2 separate regions of the Homo sapiens genome follow, and region 1 is linked to region 2. Evidence: fine-mapped expression QTL. A gene starts in region 2. The other region holds a variant in brackets. All regions are shown on one strand. Distances are from middle to middle. Region 1 has its middle 4.4 kb from the start of REN. Region 2 holds the start of KISS1 (KiSS-1 metastasis suppressor).

The links. PIP is the estimated chance that this variant, and not a neighbour inherited with it, causes the effect.
Region 1: its variant is the best candidate, but not a certain one, in a credible set for the expression of KISS1 in prostate (GTEx, PIP 0.51).

The regions. Positions count from the first base shown.
Region 1 is chr1:204,167,964-204,173,451 of GRCh38, reverse strand. No RefSeq gene overlaps it. Among named protein-coding and RNA genes, the nearest start is that of REN, 4.4 kb to the right of the region's middle. RefSeq lists cis regulatory regions at 1,452-1,490, 3,197-4,295, enhancers at 1,331-1,556, 1,238-1,829 and a promoter at 1-5,488. The variant G/A (reference allele first, on the strand shown) is at 2,230.
Region 2 is chr1:204,193,376-204,198,625 of GRCh38, reverse strand. KISS1 (KiSS-1 metastasis suppressor) reads left to right here and starts at 2,135. Exons shown (of 3, transcript NM_002256.4): 1 at 2,135-2,250. GOLT1A (golgi transport 1A) reads left to right here. Exons shown (of 5, transcript NM_198447.2): 5 at 130-463. The coding sequence ends at 168.

The DNA of each region.
Region 1 (5,488 bases), 25 kb after region 2:
ATCGTTTGGAAAGGGCCTTATCATCTCTGAGGTCAAAACACATTAATTAGCCAAAACATTAGCCACAGAGATGAGCTCCTCTCATTGTCTGTACTGCCCACAGCTGGTGTGGAGCTGGTGTAGAGGGCAGTACCCTGGAGGCACAGAATATTAGAATATTAGGGTATCAGAGCATGAAGACACCCTTGGTGCCATCCAGCCATCTGCTTCACTGTACAGATTTGGAAACTGAGGTCCAAAGAGGAGAAAGGAGGGATCCAACATCACATAGCAAATTTATGGTAGAATGAAGACTAGGATCCAAGTCCCTGACCACCAACCCAGGGCTCTTTGCACTGCCCATTGCAGTTCACTAGTTCATCCACTTAATAAATATTAAGCACCACTGTGGGCAAAAATCATATTCATACATACATAAAGAACTCTGCTGCAAAAGCAGCTAAGTTGGTGCTGTCATAGAAGGGCTTGTAGCCATGCTGTGGAAGCCTACAGCAGAAAGCAGTCAATTCCAGGCTGAGTCAGGGCCTGCTTCATGGAGGAGGGGGTAATATTTGAAGTGGGCCCTAAAAAATAATCAGGGAAAAGCCAAGATAGGCATCTTAGCCTGAATAAATAGCACTCATCCTGGGATTTAGGGACCAGATGTCTGTCTGGGGAGCTGTACTTGACTGCTTGTAAAGCTACAGGGAAAAGGAAATGAGGCAGAGAACCAGGGCCTAAAAGGGAGTTAGAGCCAAGCAGAAAGAGGAGAATAAGTTGGAAGATCAGCTGCCCTACCTCTATTTAGCAGAAGCCAAAACCCTGAAGACTGCCCTTCTCTCCCACCCTTACTAGGTCAACAGAGGATAGACAACCCCCTCCTCCCCCAGCTCCCTGCTTCCAGAGGATTATGTAACCAAATCCAAGCACACACCACTCACCACACAACAGCAAGTAAGCTGAGAGGTAAGGTGTTGGGGCAAAGAAAGCGACCCTATTCAGAAAACCAAGAAGATGGTGGACTAGCGTCATAAAGAACCATCTGAAGTCAGCATGACTTTTAGGTTACTTTTTACATTTAGGGGAGGGGGAAGAGGAAGAGGTTGGGATCAAGAGGTGACTGATGACCGCAGACACCTGGGTGCCAGCAAGGGTCTGAGGAGTATGTAAAAGTTCTTTTTTCTAGGTCAGGTCACAATGTTCCTATAAATCTTTAACATAACATTGTTATTTCTCTGTATTCTTCCTTATCTCCTTGGGGCTTAGTTTGGGGGAAAGAGCTGTTATCATTTTTTTAAGTTGAACTGCAAGCTAATCTATAATTAGCTGGTCTGTGTACAGAGCTAAGCAGAAGCTTTTAACCTAAAAGATATTACCCCTGGGGGTCAGAGGCAAAATGGAGTCAGTCATGCTAAGCCTCCCTCCACTATTTCAATTTCCCCATTGTCAAAGGTTCATCCCACAGTCTTGTGGGATTGGGGAAAATGAGACATCATTACTCACCTGGCTACTTCCTGCCAAACAGGGTTGACAAGGGGTGACTATGGAATGAAACCATTTGACCTGGCTAAGGAAATATTTCGTAGTGCCATTTTTAGGAACAATGATCATCGGCATTTCCCTTTTTGCTTTGATAGTTTTAGCGAGACTTGCACAACCTTTGTTTACACAGTACATAATAAGTTTTACTAGAACGTAGGCCACCATGACTAAAAGAAGAACATCAAGGCTGAATTTAAGAATGCCTCCCAAGATTGATGGAATTACACTAGGAATCCAGGAGAATAGGTCTTTAAAGCAGTCTCTGTAAGTGCCCCCAGATTAAGCCTGCTTTGGTGTTCTAAGGTTTGTTAAAGCCAGGTAGCCTGTTGTCTAATTGTATCAATATGGGTCTGTAGAGGAGGAATTAAGCTAGCAACAGGTGGCTAGCTTAGGGACGCCATTTGGTAAGTAGAAAGTAGGCTTGCGGCTGGGCGCGGTGGCTCACGCCTGTAATCCCAGCACTTTGGGAGGCCGAGGCGGGTGGATCATGAGGTCAGGAGATCGAGACCATCCTGGCTAACAAGGTGAAACCCCGTCTCTACTAAAAATACAAAAAATTAGCCAGGCGCGGTGGCGGGCACCTGTAGTCCCAGCTACTCGGGAGGCTGAGGCAGGAGAATGGCGTGAACCCGGGAAGCGGAGCTTGCAGTGAGCCGAGATTGCGCCACTGCAGTCCGCAGTCCTGCCTGGGCGACAGAGCGAGACTCC[G/A]TCTCAAAAAAAAAAAAAAAGAAAGTAGGCTTGCAGGCTTGTGGGTCCTTATTATTGCTTTGCATGTAGTGTCTAATGAGGTGCTGCATAAGAAAGAAACATGGGGCCTCTGGGTATGGAGTTATCAATTGGATCCTATGTATGATTTGAGAAACCAGCTTCTATAGATCTAATGCCCAAGAGGCTACATGACTAAAATTATGTGTACAGGAACAACTAGAGGATCAGAGTGGTCATGTACTGAACAAGGTTTAAGATGACAAATCTGGCAGTGTGATATGCTAGTGAAAGAGGCAATAGATTGAGAAATCCTAACTCAAGAGTTGTCTTGCCAAGGAAACAAAAATCTCTAAAGGACATGCAAGACACATAGGGGATACATTTTCATTGTACTTATCTTTTTGTGAAACAGTAGCTTTCGGTCTTTCAAGTGCTCACAAGCCCACTGTTTTCCTGGTTTCCGGATTAGTGGGCTGTCTTCTGGTGGTACTGCCTTGACCTGAGTATAATGTGCACATGGCTTTACTCCAGCAAGTTTAACTGATAAGCGTGTGTTCACCAGCAGCTCAAATGGCCTTGTCCACTTGGCAGCAAATTGGTGTTCAGGTCCTTGTTCTTTCCAGGTATTTAGGAGGATCTAATTTCCCAGTTGAAAAGGATGTAGGACCACATCTGCTGGATGAGTGGTCCTGCTAGAAGCAAACTCATGAACAGAAGTTAGTATAGTGCCTAGAGTCTTAATATTTGGTAATTGCCAAATCTCTTAAAACATCAGTTGGTTCTCCCACCAGGACAAAAACCTAGAATGGGCTACCAGATAATACTTCAAAGGGGCTCAATTTGAACCTACTTGAGGGAGCCACTCGAATCCACAACAGCAATCAGCAACATCTTATCCCAAGTCAAATTAGTTTCTTGATATATTTTGGCAATGCTTCTTTTTAGAGTATGGTTCATCTTTTCAGTTTTTCCCATGGATTGTGGTCTCTAAGATGATAATCTAAAGGTTTCAGGAAGAGACAAGTCACAGCTCCCCTGACACTCCTGTCACCATCATAGATAGTCTTTGAATTAAGGTAGGTGGGTATTAACTACAGAATACGTTGCCCCTGTATCAATAAGAAAGTCAATAAGTTTGTTCCCCACTGTCAATTTTACCCAGGGCTCCTGTGGGACTATGACAGCAGTTGGCTAAGCATACATATTCAATGTATGTATGTTACAGAAGAAGCTACGAATATTTATGAAGGTGATCCTGACACATGCGTATTGTACAAACATGCATGTTACATATGACCCATGTTTACCTTGAGGTGAAAGCGTAACATTTAAATGTACTACAATTAGGCCCTGTACATCAAAAGGTCTTTTCAGAACACAAAGGCATGCAAATGCACAATCTCTATAACTAGCTAGAACCAGTTCATGGCCAGCAGTCTTATTATCAGGAGAAAATTAGTGAAATCAGTCTTTTGTTCAATCAAAGCTATAGTTATGGCTGGTGGAACTGGGGTTCAGTTAGTCAGCATCTATGAACTGGATGAGTTGAAATTGTTTTAATATTGCTTGTCTTAAGGCCAGTGCTTGCTTAGCTGCTAGAGAAAAAGAGAAACCTTGTGTCATTGAGAATATAGCTTATTCTTTAAGTGTAAGGATGCATGACTTAACTCTTGCCTGGCATGGCCTTAGGTCCTGTTTATAATATGGTATTTTATTGCCACAAAATTTCAGTTATGTCAGTCTTATGACCTCTATTTTAACATTAGTGTTGATTAGTTATTGTATCTAAACCACAAAAGGGAGAGGGTATAATGAGGCGTATCTGACTTCCCATCACATTATACCTGAAGACTAAGTTTTTAAGGTTTTTCTGGGGTCCCCTTAGCCAAGAGGGGGTCCATTCAGTCAGCAGGGGGCTTAATATTTTATTTTTAGTTGACATTCTCCCATTTGGCCAAGATATACCAAAGGCAGCATAAATGGCCAAACTTTTATTTTGTTCCATATTGTTGCTGGGGGTGTTGTGGCTATGTGCCCCAGGTCCATCACATCCCTTGGTAGGATCCCTGTGGCTAAGGAACTCAAAGCCAAAAGACTTGTAGTCAATTAAACGTTTTAGGCCATTTGGTAAGGGAGGTGGCCAAGCATTCATTAACCCTTAAAACCTTTTAAGTAACATAAGAGCCAAAACCAAAAGCCAAATAGCAAAGGTACAAAACTGACCTTTCTATAAGTTCTATGTGTTGAGCCATCAGCTGTTTAGGCATCTGTGTACCTATATTTGGAGGATCTGAACTAATTTTACTCCTTAAAAGTAAAATTAGTACATCAAAAGGTGTTTTGTGCCCACCTCTTCCATGAGCGTCCTTGGGCCCAGAGGGATTTAATAGTTTTTTAAATCCTGGAGATATTAGGTACAGAGAGAAAGGTAAACCCAATTTCTATAAGCTATAAATAGCTCAAAAAGAAAAAAGGCGGGCCAGGCGCAGTGGCTCACGCCTGTAATCCCAGCACTTTGGGAGGCTGAGGCAGGCAGATCATGAGGTCAGGAGATCAAGACCATCTTTGCTAACATGGTGGAATCCCGTCTCTACTAAAAATACAAAAAATTAGCTGGGCGTGGTGGCACGTGCCTGTAGTCCCAGCTACTTGGGAGGCTGAGACAGGAGAATGGTGTGAACCCAGGAGGTGGAGCTTGCAGTGAGCCGAGATTGCGCCGCTGCACTCCAGCCTGGGTGACAGAGCAAGACTCCGTCTCAGAAAAAAAAAAAAGGCTTTCTTGACTCTGGAAAACAAAACATAAAGAATTAGCAACATTTCAAACTTAATTTAGGATTAGATTTTGAGGACATTTGTCAAAATGTTAAAGCCTCAAACCATTTGATCAAAACAGAACCGCCGGTCTTTGTAAAATAATAATTATTCATTTCACAAAAGTGATAATTAAAAGACTTTAATAGCAATACAGAAAGTTACATGAATATAAAGACTTAACCTTTCTAAAGCTCAGTTTTCCTAAGTAATCAAAAACCTGATAAAGATAACAAGAATGAGGAATTATCTTGAGAAAATGTAAAATCTTTCCTTTTATTTTTTGAGACAGGGTCTCACTCTGTCATCCAGGCTAAAGTGCAGTGGCACAATCATAGCTCACTACAGCCTTGAACTCCTGGACTCAAGTGATCCTCCCGCCTCAGCCTCCCCAGTAGCTAAGACTACAGGCACGCACCACCACACCCAGCTAATTTTTTTCAGAGAT
Region 2 (5,250 bases):
CAGCCCCTACAGCCCCTCTCGTATCTGCGCCTGGCACAGCTCCTGGCTCTCAAGGCCAGCTCTGTAATAACTAGATATTGCATCTGCTCTCTACCCTTTGTGTGGAGTAATGATTCTTGGCTCCCACAGCTGTTCCGGAGACTTCAAGGCACTAGCTCGATGGTCTGAAAAACAGAGATGAGCTCCTTGAACTTGGATCATTGGTTGAGGGGGCTAGAGGGAGAATGGGAACCACCCCCTCAGTCCCCTGCACTGACTCACTCCCCGACATATCCGGACCTCCCCAAGTCCAGAAGGAAGGAATGGAGCTGAGCAACTGACGTCAAATCCCCAAGTCGACTCAAGAGGCTGCCAGGAAGCAGAGATGCAGACCCCAAGGAGACTGGGCTGGGGCTGGTATCACACCCTCACTCTATATTTATGGGAGGAAAAGTGAAGATTAAATTCCCAAGTTGTGCGTGTGTCTAAGGCTCAGAGTTGGCGTCTTTGGCCGGGCGCGGTGGCTCACACCTATAATCCCAGCACTTTGGGAGGCTGAGGTGGGCAGATCACCTGAGGTCAGAACTTCGAGACCAGCCTGGCCAACATGGTGAAACCCCGTCTCTACTAAAAATACAAAAATTAGCGGGGCGTGGTGGCAGGTGCCTGTAGTTCCAGCTACTCAAAAGGCTGAGGCAGGAGGATCGCTTGAACCCAGGAGGCGGAGGTTGCAGTGAGCTGAGATCGCACCACTGGATTCCAGCCTGGGTGACAAAGCCAGACTCCGTCTCAAAAAAAAAAAAGTTAGCGTCTTCAGCCCATTAAGACCACCTCCTGCTTCAGGACAGGCCAACGTACACATCATCCCCACAGCGAAGTTTTGGTCTATGAGGGTCAGTGCTGTCCTCATAGGCTATCATTTCTGTCCTGGTGTTTAACAGCCCTAATGGGTGTGATAATAATATGTTTGCAATCCCCTGTTAACAGTAAGCATCAGACAAGTGAGGGGTGCTAACCTGCAGACTGCCGGCATGCTTCTCCAGCATTAGGGGACGACCAGGTTGAGCTTGTGCTGGGAGAGCGTCCTGTCTGAGGGTAGAGACATAGCCCCTGCCTTCAGAGACTCCCAGCCTGATAGAAGAAACAGTCTCTGCCCTGGAGAGCCCCTTGTCCAAGGGTATAGAGAGTTATTGCAGGCTCAAGAAAGAGACAAAAGTCACTTGCGATGCATGCAGTTAGCAAATATCTATTGAGGGCCCTCTCTGTATGTGCCCAGCAATGGAGTGGGTGCCAAGGGTACAGGGGGAAGGGGGCCTGTCCCTGTCCTCAAAGTGCTGTACCTGAGCAGTCACAAAATAGTATGGTGGTGGGTGCCACGAGACAAGAAGGTGGGGCCCCCAAGCAGGCTGTCTGGATGTGCTGCCACCTGGAAGTCCCCTCTCTGCACCCCTGGCACTTCCCAGGTGCATCCACCTTCTGCAGCTCCCATTTCGTCCTCCTTGCTCATAGCTGGTTGCTTACCTAAGGTCTCTGACCAGTCCATAGCCTATTCACCTCAAAACCCTGCGCTGAGGAAGCGCTCAGTGACCGAGGAAAGAAGGGAAGCAGGAAGGAAGGAAAAAGGAGAGAATCTCTGCCACCACCACCCTGTGCCAGTCACAGGGCGCAGTCTAGGAGCCGCCTGGAGACCCACGCTGACCTGGCTTTCCCTCAGAGCTGGGAGCATGGGATGTGAGGAGCCCCTGGGTCAGCCTGTGCCCTTCTCCTCCCCTCTTCCTGTCGTTTTCTACGTCTAATTCAGACTAGGTGTGTCTGTGGCTCTTCGGAGAGGAAACAAGACATTTCACACTGACACTTCTCCCCACCCTCCTCAGATAGCCCATTTCCACGTTGTTTGGGGGCAGGATGGGTCCTCTGGGTGGGAAGAGGGTGTGGAGGATGGAAAGAGCCGGTAAGAAGGAGAAAGTCCCGCCTCGGAGGGCTCGGGTGGGGCAGGAGGAGAGGCTGCCTCCAGTCACAGAGCCCGGAGGCAGAGGCCTCCCAAGGTGCCATGCTCTTCAGGAGGGTCTGAGGAGGAGGGAGGGGCGGCAGAGTGGGCCTGTGCTTGGAGACGTCACCCCGGGCTTTATAAAAGGGATGTGATCAGGGAGCTGGGGAGAACTCTTGAGACCGGGAGCCCAGCTGCCCACCCTCTGGACATTCACCCAGCCAGGTGGTCTCGTCACCTCAGAGGCTCCGCCAGACTCCTGCCCAGGCCAGGACTGAGGCAAGGTAGGCACACTGCAGTGTCCACCCCTGGGAAGGGGGTCTGCCCTGACCTGGGGATGCTCTGGAGGGGAGCAGGGAATCCGTTCTAAGACGGACAGATGCATCCAGGCAGGCAAAGGCAGGGGAGGGAGACACTGATCTTTCCTGTTTACCAGCCTGGCCAGATTATCCTGGGATGCCTGGGCGAATACACTGAGTCGCACTTTATTTGTGAAGCTAACACTCTGGGGATCCCGAGGGCTCTCTCTTGCTGTGGAAGGAATACATGCAATAAATAAATGCTGTGGCTGGAATTAGAGACCACAGACACGCTTGGATGGACCTAGGGAACCGCTCGGGGCTCTTGAGAGCAATGGGGCTCCTCTGAGCAGCTCCCCCCAAATTACAGATGGCAAATACAAGCCTAACCAAGGGCATCTACCTACCCACTAAGAACTAGGGGCCACTTCACTCCAGAAGCTTTCCAACCATGCCTGGAATTTCTGTCACTCACTGGATACAAACCCCCCAGGGTGGAGGGAACCACAAAAATTGTCTACAGCAGGTCGGCCACTCATGGCCCCTTTCCAAATAATTCATTTCTACCATATATGTTAAGTGCCCCGATGGGCTGGGCAGTGGAATCTGTGTGTGTGTGTGTGTGTGTGTGTGTGTGTGTGTGTGATATGTGTGTATGGGTGTATGTGTGTATATGTGTGTGATGTGTGTGCGCATGTGTGGTGTATGTGGTGTATGTGTGTGTATGATGTACGTGTATGGGTGTATGTGTGTATATGTGTGTGGCGTGTGTGTGCATCTGTGGTGTGTAGTGTATGTGTACGGGTGTATGGGTATATATCTGTGTGGTGTGTGTGCATGTGTGGTATGTGTGGTGTATGTGTGTGTATGATGTGTATGTATGGATGTGTGTATGTGTGTGTGTATGTTGTGTGTATGGGTGTATGTGTGTATATGTGTGTGTGGTGTGTGTGCGTGTGTGGTGTGTGTGCATGATGTGTGTGTATAGGTGTATGTGTGTATATGTGTGTGGTGTGTATGCGTGTGTGGTGTGTGTGGCATATGTGTATGTGTGTGTATGGGTGTATGTGTGTGGTGTGTGTGGTGTATGTGTGTGTGTATGATGTGTGTGTATGGGTGTATGCGTGTATATGTGTATGGGTGTGTGCGTATATATGTGTGTGGTGTGTGTGTGCATGTGTGGTGTGTGTGGTGTATGTGTGTGGTGTGGGGGGTGTGTGTGTGTGTGCTGGGGTCAGGCAGAGTTGTCCCATGGCGCACATGGTAAGTGCCATCCACAGTGGGAAGGAGGCACTCGGGGGGAAAGGGGAGCCGGAAGAAAGAGTACCACCCTCCAACCACACAAGCCCACTGCCCTCCTTCCTGGCCCACCACCCTGCTTCCGCACAGAGAACCGGAAATGTACATCTACCCACATTCCTGTCTGGCTCAGACCCCTCCAGGATGAAGCCCCTGCAGGGCCCCTTCCCCCAGCCTTGTCACTAGCTTTCTCTCCATGCAAAGCTCCATCCTCTTGTCTAGCTAGAGGGCCTGAAGTTCCCTTTGCACTCAGCCCCTGCCCTTGCTTCAGCGCCTTAGCACCGTCCTGGGAACACTTTCTGTAAACCTTTCAGCGATTCATGCTCAGAAACAGCTCAAGTGCCACCCCCTGCCAAAAATCTGCCTGGTCCTCCTAGGTTGGGTTCCCCTGGACTCCCATATCCCCTTGTGGATTCACATGCATCCGGTATGTCATTTACAGTGTTATTTTGAAATGATCTGCTGATGAGTTAATTTCTCATGCTAGACTTGAGATCTTGGGGGCAGCAACTCTGTCTTAGCACACCTGTGCACCCCTAGCACCTAGCACAGCACCAGCACCTAGTCGGTGCTCAAGGAGTGATTTCCAAATCAACCCAGACCCTGTGCATCCACGGTCTGAAATGCTTTTACACTATTCTCTCCAATGGATTAATCCTACCTCTACTCCGTGCCCCAGCCCTGGGCCTTAAGGTAAATGCAGAAAGCTGTGGTCTGGGTTTCAACTTGTCACAGTATCAAAGTCTGCAAGGATAAGTAAACTTCTGAGCAGGTGGCTGGTGGCCAATCTGATCCAGGGTTCTTATTTTATAGATGGACCAATGAGGTCTGGAGATGGGGGTGACTTGCTCACATTTCACAGGGAATGAAAGCAGAGCTGGGGCAAGATTCAAGTACTCCTCATTCCATTTCAGGGTTCTTACTCTTTACTCCATGCCTGAGTCCTGCAGGGAGCTGGGTGAGGAATGGGGGGTGGGGGTGTGGGTGCAAGAGCAGAGAGATGCATGGGCCTGAGCCACCATTAGGAGCTGATGGGCACAAAAGGTTCTCATCCCCCAGTCCCCCTTCCCCAGGGAGAGCGGCTCCAGGCTGTGGGTCAGGCCAGGACAATCTTTTTGCTCAGCTGGCATTGCTCCTGCCTCCCCAGCCTTTTGTCTTTAATCGTGTTTGTTGGACAGTCTCAAAGTGTCTGGTGACTTTTTCAAAAAGAAATTAGATTTGGGAGCCGGAAGAGGTAGGGTGGGGTATGTGGGGTGTCGGTGGGGCAGAGCAAGGCAGGGTGATGGGAAATGGTGTGAGGATCAGGGCACACGGCTCCCATCTCAGCAGCCAAAATGATGAGGCCAATTCAATTCATAGCCTCTTAGAGTCCACAAAGAATAGACTATGGAGATAACTGACCTGATAAATCAAGGAAAGGTTTTTCTTTTCCATGAATGATAGGCAATAAGACAATTTAATGACCGTCTTCAAGGCTGTGAAGGGCTATGAGAGAGAGCAAGATGATTGCCTCTTTCTTTCTTTTTCCTTATAAAAGAAAAAGAAATAAGTTTCTCTTACAGCAGGAGAGAACAAGGTCAGACTCAAGCGTATGGATGGGGAGAGTGGAACACAGAAAGTTGTGGATTTGTGCAGAACCCACCATGGAAGGAAGAAGTGCCTGTTGCCAGGCTCCCGAGAGAATAT